Linked DNA regions of Homo sapiens. The protein of the gene in region 2 purifies or fractionates together with the protein of the main gene of each other region. This does not show direct contact. Each region holds a gene or a part of one and is shown on either strand. Other genes may lie near its edges.

What was found. The genes of interacting proteins can lie anywhere in the genome.
Region 1: the proteins of KRT23 (region 2) and GRIPAP1 purify together in Homo sapiens (affinity purification with mass spectrometry; one large-scale study listed by BioGRID and IntAct). This does not show direct contact.

What each region holds. Positions count from the first base shown.
Region 1 is NC_000023.11:48,995,383-49,000,050, reverse strand, and holds part of GRIPAP1 (GRIP1-associated protein 1), read left to right. Parts: intron 1-546; coding exon 547-613; intron 614-751; coding exon 752-813; intron 814-1,870; coding exon 1,871-1,897; intron 1,898-2,693; coding exon 2,694-2,801; intron 2,802-4,668. UniProt on the Homo sapiens protein: Regulates the endosomal recycling back to the neuronal plasma membrane, possibly by connecting early and late recycling endosomal domains and promoting segregation of recycling endosomes from early endosomal membranes.
Region 2 is NC_000017.11:40,934,043-40,939,322, forward strand, and holds the start of KRT23 (keratin, type I cytoskeletal 23), read right to left. Parts: upstream 3,605-5,280; 5' UTR 3,304-3,604; intron 3,229-3,303; exon of another isoform or gene 2,912-3,228; 5' UTR 2,562-2,911; coding exon 2,166-2,561; intron 1-2,165.

The DNA.
Region 1 (4,668 bases), on a different chromosome or scaffold from region 2:
TTTGAGAGCCTTGGAGGTGGGGGGACCCTGGAAAGCCCCCTGACTCAATGAAAGTTGGGCAGAATACTTGACCCTTTTCCCTTAGGAAAGAGGGAGGAAGACAGGCCCTTAACCCCCTGCCATCAGAGGCCCCCAGGTCTGGTCAGAAATATGGACAACACCCCTGACAGTGTGTGTTCAGTGTGTGGAGAGGTCAGCCAGGATGAGGAGGAGGAACTTTATCCTGTGGGCATGGAGAGCCAGGGAACTCACACAAGCAAGACCCTGACTGGGGGCAGTGCTCTGGGATGGCCTGAGTGCAGCGTGGATTGTAGTGTGAGATGGAGGGGTGAGGCTGGCTGGGGTTATAAGTGGAGCTGGAAAAGGTGAGCCAGGGTCTGAGGGCCTGGAAGGTCACTTTGGGTGTAGCACATACAGGTCTTAAGGAGTAGCTACAGAGGCACATGGAGGGCGTAAGGTCTGTGGAGCTTAGGGGCTTGGTTCCCTCATGGTAGGGGTAGGGGCGCTTTCCTGACCAAGTCTTTTCCCTTCCTGCCTCCCCCAAAGGCTCAGCTCCTGGAACTCCGGACAAACAACTACCAGCTTTCAGATGAACTACGCAAGAATGGTGTTGGTGAGCCAGGAGGGCCTTATTAGATGGGGGTGGCTTTGGGGAATGGTGTCCGAGGTTTTCCCTCAGAGGCCTGGCAGGAAGGCCTTTCAGTTTCTTGCCACTGGCTGAGGCTGAGTTTCCCTGCTTTCCCGACACCAGAACTCACCAGTCTTCGACAGAAGGTCGCCTACTTGGATAAGGAGTTCAGCAAAGCTCAGAAGGTACCTCCCTCCACCCACCCATCCACCTACCCATCCACCCTTGCTTCTACCTATCTGACTCATTCATCCCTCCAGTGAGCACCTACAGTGAACCAGACCTAATGTTGCATGCTGTTTTCACGTAGTCATTTAAAGGATTCTCAATGGAATTCTCTTTAGTTGCTAATTTTACCTAATCCTGCTTAATTTAGTGATTAATTTTAATTTACTTTTAATTCATTTCTAATTTCAGTTACTCATTCTCATTCACTGACTTTTAATTAAATATTCAAATCTATCAGTAAATCTACCTCGAATCTGCCTCCCATCCTCTACTCACACTCCTGCCTTGTGCTCCTACTTCCCATCTCTGTCCTGGTCCAGTTGGGAAAATGAGAGCAAACCCACCTCTCAGATCCTCTAAAGATGAGATAGGATATAACCTATTGTGGCCCCTCAAGACATTCGAGGTGCTCCTTTGTCACTGCTCTGTCCCCATATCTAGCCATACCTAGCACAATGTTAATACATAATATGTGCTCAATAAATATTTGTTGGATGAACGAATACAGTATGCAGAAAATCCGACAGTCAGGAAGCTGCACTTCTCTTTGGTAGGATGCTGATTCCCCTAAGCTGGCAATGCTCTTGGCTGCCCAGTAGGGGAGCGACAGTTTCCACACTGCGTGGGAGGGACCCACAGAGACATGTATGGACAGATGTAGCAATGAAGCCACAGTTTCTGAGTCTGGAGATCCAGCCCATAAATGGTTAAATACCAGGGCATCTCCCTACCTCCCCTGTCCCCCCACCAGCCTCAAGAGCTTCCAAGAAAGGATGATTTATGTGTGCTGGGGCCCCAGGGCAAGACTTGCATTCATTCACTCACTCACACACTCATTCCATCATTCCTTTGGGCTCCAAATTGTCACACATGTTCTGTGGTTGAAGATGCTCCCATCCTGCAACCCCTGTCATCCTTGTCCTCCCAAAACGCTTGGCACAATTGTCTCCATATCCTAGTAAGGCAGTCCATCTCTGTTCACTTTAGCTCTCTTCCCACCCACCCCCACTTTAGGCACTGAGCAAGAGCAAGAAAGCTCAGGTAAGGGGATCCCTTGTGGGTGAGTGTGACTGGGAGATGTCTTGGTGGGCTATTTCTGTATGCTGATATTTCCTTGTACTGGCCTTTCTTTCTTTGTGTGCCTTTACATCTGCTACTACCTCACTGCCATGTGTTGCTGTATCTGTCCTTGTTTCCCTGTATTTGTCCTAACTCTGTGTCTCTTTCCTTCTCTCTCTTTCCATTCTTTTCTCTGAGTCTCTTTCTGTCTCTGTCTGTTTTCCTGTTCCTGTCTCTCTGACTCATTTCTCTTCCCAATCTTCTCTTTGTCTCTCCCCCTCCTGTTCCTGTCTCGGTGATTTCTCTTTTTTCTGCTTTCTCTCTCTAACTCCTTGTTTCTTCCACCCCATTCCTCTCTCTTCCTAACTCATTTCTTTTCCTGACCCCTCCTCTTCTCCCTGTTCTGTTCTCTCCCTGTTGATTTCTGTTTGTTCTTCTCTCCGTCTTTTTCACTCTCTCCCTCCCAATCCCTCTCCCCTTTTCTATCTCTCCCCCTTTCCCCATCTCTACTTCCTCTCTCCCCAATCATTATCTTCCTGTCTTTTCCTCCGCTCTCTTCCTCCCTGTATTCCCTTCTCTCTACCTTCCCATGTCTTTATCTTCCTTTCCCTGTCTCTCATTTTATCCCTCCCCATGTCTCTTTCTCCTATATCACCTCATTCTCTGTACCCTATGTCCTCTCCCACCCATGTCATTTTCTCCCTCTCTCTGTTTCTTTGCCCTACCTCCCTATCCTTTTTGCCCTTGCTGGAGTCCTGGCCCTTGTCTGCCACTGCAGGAAGTCGAGGTATTGCTGAGTGAAAATGAGATGCTGCAGGCAAAGCTGCACAGCCAGGAGGAGGACTTCCGTTTGCAGAACAGCACACTAATGGCCGAGTTCAGCAAGGTGCTGGTGCCTGGGATAGTCAAAGGGGAAATGAGGGGTAGGGGTCATCTGGGCTGAAACCTAACAGCGGCAGAGAGTGATTGGACAGGGTCTGGCCCTGGAGCACTGTCCGTGGTGCTGAAACAGGTCCTGGATTGCTGCTGGGGGGCAGTAATTTGACAGATGGGGCCGCTCACTCTGCTGGGATTAGAAGGCTTTGAGCCCTGAGGTCACCTGGTTCCTGGCCAAGTCACTCCTTTTATTTGAGCTTCAAGTCTCCATGTGTATAATGTGGGGTTGATGCTGTGGTGCTCCAAGGTGTTGGGGGGTTTTAGGCAGAGTTCTTATGCTTAATATAGGATGGAAAAGTGTTCGAGCTTCTTCCCTTTTCTCTTTCTTCTCTTCATCTGACATGAGCCTGGGGTTCTACCTCTTCCAGATAATTCATCCTGGAGCTACTAATTCTATCTCCCCATTGATTTTAGTGTCCTGTCTGTTTCTAAATCTACTGGGCAGTTGGAGACATTGTCTTTTGTTCCCTCATCTATCTTCTGTATCCACAGTTGATAATTGTCTATGTTTTTAGTGTGTTTTAAGGAAAAAAGTCTCATGGCAGCAAATTTTTTTGAGATGGAGTTTCACTCTCATTGTCCAGGCTGGAGTGCAATGGCATGATCTCAGCTCACTGCAACCTCTGCCTCCTGGGTTCAAGCGATTCTCCTGCCTCAGCCTCCCAAGTAGCTGGAAGTACAGGCATATGCCACCATGCCTGGCTAACTTTGTATTTTTAGTAGAGATGAGAGAAAATGACATGGGTGGGAGAGGACATTTAGTAGAGAAAATGACCATGTTGGTCAGGCTGGTCCTGAACTCCCGACTTCAGGTGATCCACCCGTCTTGGCCTCCCAAAGTGTTGGGATTAAAGGCGTGAGCCACCGCGCCCGGCCCAAAAATGGTATTTCTAAGGCTCCATCTGAGAATATAGTGCCTATGACCTTAAAAAAACAAAACCGAAAATAACCTTTAAGCAGGTACAATACCAGGAGAGGCAGTTGAGCAAGTAGTAGGTACCAGCAGGGACTCTGGAACCAGAAGGCCTAGATTAAAATCTTGGCTCTACCTTTTACTAACTGTAACCTTGAGGAAGTTACTTAACTTGCCTGGTTCTTGGTTCCCAAATGTTTAAAATGGAAGTCATGATAATAACAGTACCTGCCTCTTCACAGGGCTTTTGTGAGGATTAAATGAATAAATGTACGTAAATCACTTAAAACAGAGCCTTGCACATAGTATCAGCTATGGAAGCATTAGTTATAATATTATCCTTCTATTAACTCATCTTCCCTCTAAAATATTTGACTTTTTAAAAGTTTTATGGCCGGGCGTGGTGGCTCAGGCCTGTAATCCCAGCACTTTGGGAGGCCAAGGCAGGCAGATCATGAGGTCAGGAGATGGAGACCATCCTGGCTAACGTGGTAAAACCCCGTCTCTACTAAAAATACAAAAAATTAGCCGGGTGTGGTGGCACGTGCCTGTAGTCCCAGCTACTCGGGAGGCTGAGGCAGGAGAATCGCTTGAACCCGGGAGGCGGAGGTTGTAGTGAGCCAAGATTGCACCACTGCACTCCAGCCTGGGCGACAGAGCAAGACTCTGTCTCAATTTAAAAAAAAAAAGTTTTATATCCACCCTGTGGCCCTGCTTTGCCTTAGCCTCTACCACTTATCATCTGCTGTTTCTACAGCCGCCTCCCTGGTCTCTTCACTTCTAGTTTCTTCTACTTAGTTCACACCACAGAGGCTGTTCTGACCTGCAGATCTTATGACATCACTCCTTTACTTAATACATTCCAGTGCCCCAGTCCTGCTCCTAGTTCAGAGCCCCTGGTATT
Region 2 (5,280 bases):
CCAATTCTGGATTTCAAAAGGATTGAATTAATTTTTAAGCTCAACTTGTTATCAACCTTTTGAGTGATATTTAATATACCTAAAGTGAGGGTACGGGAGAACTGTATCCACTCAGAGCATTTCACCAAGGTCCAGGAAGGATAAGCCCCAGGTAATTGTGGGACCTCCTTGCACCTCTGTTTTCTCATCTTCAAATGAGGGAGGTTGGGGTAGATAGACAACCTCAACTTTAAAGAGTTTCTTTCTTCAAGTGTAGAGAAAACACAATGTTAGAGGTAAAAATCCAGAAAAGAGTGAAATTCAAAGCCAAAGAAGTTTCCTATTCAATCTCAGAACCCAGAATTCCAGGTCATCTGAAGGGTGGGCAGGTTGCTCCCCACACCCCCCATTGCACCTACTCACTTTTCTCAATTCTGTTCCAAAGGATTTAGACAATGATTAGGTCTCAGTCTCCTTATCTGTAAGTTGAGAATACAAATACCTGCTCCACACAGTTGTGAGGATTAAATGAGACAATGTGTATGAAGTATGTGATGTGTGGTTAATGATGCAAGTATAATGCATTATCTTTATTCATACTAAGTGTCATTTTTATATGAGGTGGGCTAGGCAGCACTACACTGTAGTGAAATTTATGAGGCTACTGGAAACAGACCTGAGTTAGAATCCCACCTCTGCTTCTTGCTGATGGCTTTGGATGGCTATTTCACTTTTTTCCAAGCTTCCATTTCCTTACAGGGTTCTTGCAGAATCAAATAAAATAATATGGAACATTTCCATCATTGCAGAAAACTCTTGGATAGTGTTGACATGTGTATTAAATATCCAGCAGGATGCCTAGGTACATAATAAGTGCTCAGTAAACATTTCCCTCTCTTTCCTCCCTTTCTTTTTTTTAAATCTCTTCCGCGAGCTCATAAATTATTTGACTGGTTCTAACCTTGTATTTCTTTTGGGAGTCATGGTCTCCCTTTGCTCTCCATTTGCAAAAATCTTCAATTCCTCCTTTCTACAACCAAAGCAACTTTATTAAACAAAAAAACATGATGAGGACTGTTGAGTCACCTTGTTTTTTTTTTTTTTTCATAAAGACAACCATGCACTATATAGTTAAGGTAATTACAGTCAGTTATTAGGTTGATTATTCAATAATTAGGGTTCATTACAAGGACAGATTTATATTATCTTGACTGGTCCTTCCTACATTCAAGCAAGGATGACTGAGCATTGTGAAATAATATATATAAATATTGGAAACTTGTGATACCCTTTCTAGGGGAGGTTAAATCATGGTCTTACAGGGAATTTTCTGGGACTGCTTTATATAAGAGGGGAGTTAGATAGCTTTAAAACATAACCTATGAGATGATTGGATTCCTTCTACTTCTAGCTAATGTTATGAGACATCCCAGAAGGTATTTGCTTAGCTTTTTTGAGGTTTGGTTAAAGAGTTCGGTTTTTTTTGAACAAGGTCTTTATAGCCATCTCAACTCTCAGATTCTAAAAATTATGCTCATTTTATTATTATTGGTTCTAGCAATATGCCATTGTCAGAACTGTGAGCAACTTTACTGCAAGCAACCCACAAACGGAAATATCTAGGGATGTCATGATGACCTATATGCTGGTGTGGTGACAACTTTTAGGCATAATCTTCAAAATAGTGTAACAGCCTTTTGTCGATGGATAACCACATTGTTCAAAAAAGTTTGAGGTGGAGCAGAACTGAGGTAATGAGAAAGTAAACACTCTCTTATGCCTGGTGCACTGAGCATGCAGCATGAACACCAGCCCTTATCATTTCTATGACATCGTTGGGTCATAAGTGACATTAAACAGCAGCTGGTTGCCTCACATTTTAAAGATGTTTTTGGTCTGTGAGAAATCAGTAGTCTCATTTTTGAAACAGTCTGTAGCACTTCTATCATTTTTGCTGCCTTCTTTTTCTACATTATCCATGGACAGTAGACTAATTAAACAAAACAGACGTTTCCCACTCCAAATTTAAGATATAATAAGAAAACATCCCCCAAAACCTTTGTGCACAATTACTTCAAGCGCTGATGCCATTTTCCTGGAAATTGTCTTCTGGACTCATTTTTCCTCCCGAGGGTCCCCTGGCAAAGCAGCCCCATCTGGATCTCCAGGGTCACCCAGCATCTTACCTGCTCCTGCAGGTGTGTGATGTTTTCCTCATACTGGGAATAATCTTTCTTACTGCCAGGATCTCTCTGCTGGTGCCATTTCAGGATGCGGCTTTCCAGCTTCATGTTGGCCTCCTCCAGGGCGCGAACCTTCTCCAGGTAGGAGGCCAGGCGGTCGTTGAGATTCTGCATGGTGGCCTTCCCATTTCCGCCTAGTAGGGGGCTGCTTCTTCCAGAACCCCAAGACCCTCCAGGGGGTGGGCAGCTCCGCGTGGTGAAGGACAGGGAGATGCGGGCTCCCCCCGCACCGCCATGGACGGTGGGAGCCCTGGGGAAGCTCCTGGGCCGGCCCCAGCCACCTCCGGCGCCATGGAAGGAGGCCGAGGGGGTCTGGCTGAAGCTGTGTCCGGAGTTCATGGTCCCATCTGTGTTTGGGACGGGGCTGAGCTCTGCTCCACTCCCTGGCACCGCAGAACTGAGCCGCCCCAGACTGCCCTGGATGGTTTTATGGCCTTTGCTGTGGGAGTTCCCTTCTCTGACAATTGTACCAACAAGATTGTATCATTGTGCAACTTGTGTTTCCTCTTGGTCAATCCCAAAGTGCCCCTGGGCCTTCGCACACTGTTGTTGTTTAGAGCCACATCAATATGACAGTTTGCTTCCTCCCTTCCCCTGGTAACCCGGAGGTGTGGCCCACGACATCAGGCGGGTATTGGGCTCAGGTATCTTTCTAATCTTGCCGTGAAGTTTTTCCATTGTTCATTTACCTGGAATGGGTTAGGTTAAAGTCCACCCAAAAGAAAGCATATTCGATGTAGTATAGATTTCCTTAAAAAAAACCAAAAACCAAAACCAAAACAAAACAACAACAACAGCAACAAAAAACCAGACATTAAACAACAGAGATACACACACCTTTTTCCACCCCCAATAAGCCCCACCTCTAAAGGGAGGGTGAGCGAGCCTGGAGAAGGGAAAGCCAGCTCAGAACAGGATCTCAGGTCCCAGAATAAAGCTTGCTGTGCTGAGGCAGCCGAGAAGGTGGTGAATATCTGATGCCTTTGTGGCAGTCACTGTTTGAAGGAAAGTACTTTCAAAGGACTCGCTCTTAAGAACAAACCCTCAATTATAGATGTAATTAATTAATGAATGACCGAACCTTCCACTTCCAGGGTGCCTTTCATCCCAGCACACCTCAAAACCAAACAACCCTGGCCTGCGCTCAGGATTTCCCTTGGCCCTGGGGGAGGAATGTAGCCGTTGTTAGCAGCCCCGGACCCCGGCTGAGCCTGCCACGGCTGGGCTCTGTGTGTCTGTGACCTGCAGAGGGACGATGGAAAACAGGAAACCTGCCATGGGCTGTCAAATGTGGTTGATGAATCTTATATTTCATCTGCCAAGGTAAAGGTTAGGAATGAATAAAGAAGCAGTCTGGGGGCGGGAGCCACGTGCTAGTTACTGGCAGTTGGATTTAAAGGGGACTTACAAATAAAATATCAGCGCAGGAAGGGCTTCTGGCCTTTCTGGTTCCAAGCCACTAATTGGACAGATGAGGAAAGCTGAGGCCTATGGTGGTGGGGAGGTTAGTGGCAGAGCCAGGGCTAGATTCTTTCTCCACATAGCACTGTTATCTTGGGTTGAATCTTGACAGGTCCTGTACCACACTTCTCTTTCATAATAATAGGACTTGCCAATTGGTGTAGCTCTTTTATATTCTTTATTGAATCCTCACAACTCTTTATGTATCCAGGCAAGGGTTGTTGTCTTCATTTTGCAGACAAAGAATCAGGGTCTCATAGGGATGAATGATCCAGAGCTGATTCGCATGTACAGTGTAATTGAGCACATGAATTCATAGGTGACACTGCCCGAGTCTGTGCTGTCCTCCCTGCCTGGAAAGTCACTCACCCCTACCTCTTCTATAGTTCAAGGGCTACCTCCTTCAACAATCATTTTCTGAATTCTCCTGCATGAGTTGGGTGACCCTCTAGGAGGAAACTGCCTCTTCTGGATGCCGAGGTCCTCCAGAGGGGCAGACACCTTGGCATCCCACCTCATGGTGGAAGCTGGGAGCCCCTAGCCAGGCGCAGCCACCTCCTGTGCCTGGGATGAAGTCCACTCCGTTCTTTCACTCCATTATACTGCATTTGCCACACCCTTCTGAGACCGCAGGCTTCTTGAAAGCAGAGTTTATGTCTTCCATTTTTGAGCACCAAAGTCTGGTTTCTTGGTGGTATTTTGCAAATGTATGTTGACTCAATCATAAACTTTTTAGAGTCAGGATTTTAACACAGGTCTCCTGATGCCATCAACTTCTGCTCCTTTTAGGACTGTGAGTTATAGAACTAGAAAGTAGGAAAACGCCTCTCCTGGGTATAGATTAACCATCCATGAAGGCCAATCTTTTCCAATTACAAATAAAGCCACCCAAAAGCACACCAGCTCTGCTCCTCCCAGTCTTACAACAAAACCTTATCAGGGAAGAGTCTCTGAATATTTTTTATTTCACTGTGCACGAGCTGGAAAAATGAGCCTCCAAGCCTCAGGGAAGCTTGGAGAGTGCTTAGAAAGAGTGCCGACAGTCACTTACATCTCAGATATGAGAAAAAGACAAAAGAGACAAGTGATAAAAATAGAGCAAATGAGGGAACTAGAGAGACTTGTTTGGCGAGTGGTGGCAACCAGTGTTCTGTGGATGTGGACGGTTCCTGGTCATCAAAGTTATGGTCAGCTCTGGTTCCTGTTCGCCTGGACCCAGACTTACCAAGGAAGAAAACATTTACCTTTAGCATGTGCAAGGGCCGGGCTGCACTGCCTTTTTCTAAATTCTCTCACCAGAATCTACAATGAAATTAATGCTTCTCTAATTATTTCAGGCATGTCTGAGTGGCAGTGACTTATCAACCCCATAGATTTGGCCACTGTCTCATTTTATGTCCATGTGTGGGAGTTTTGATTTATAGGACTTATCCTTGAGCAAAAGATTTCTTGTGTCATAGCAGGACCAGGGCCAGGAAAAACTGGTGGTGAGATCTGAGAGCACTGGGGAGAAATAGTCTCTTCTAGTACTGTTATATGATGGTTTCCCATAACTTCTTTTTTTTTTTTTCTCAAGATGGAGTTTTGCTCTGTCACC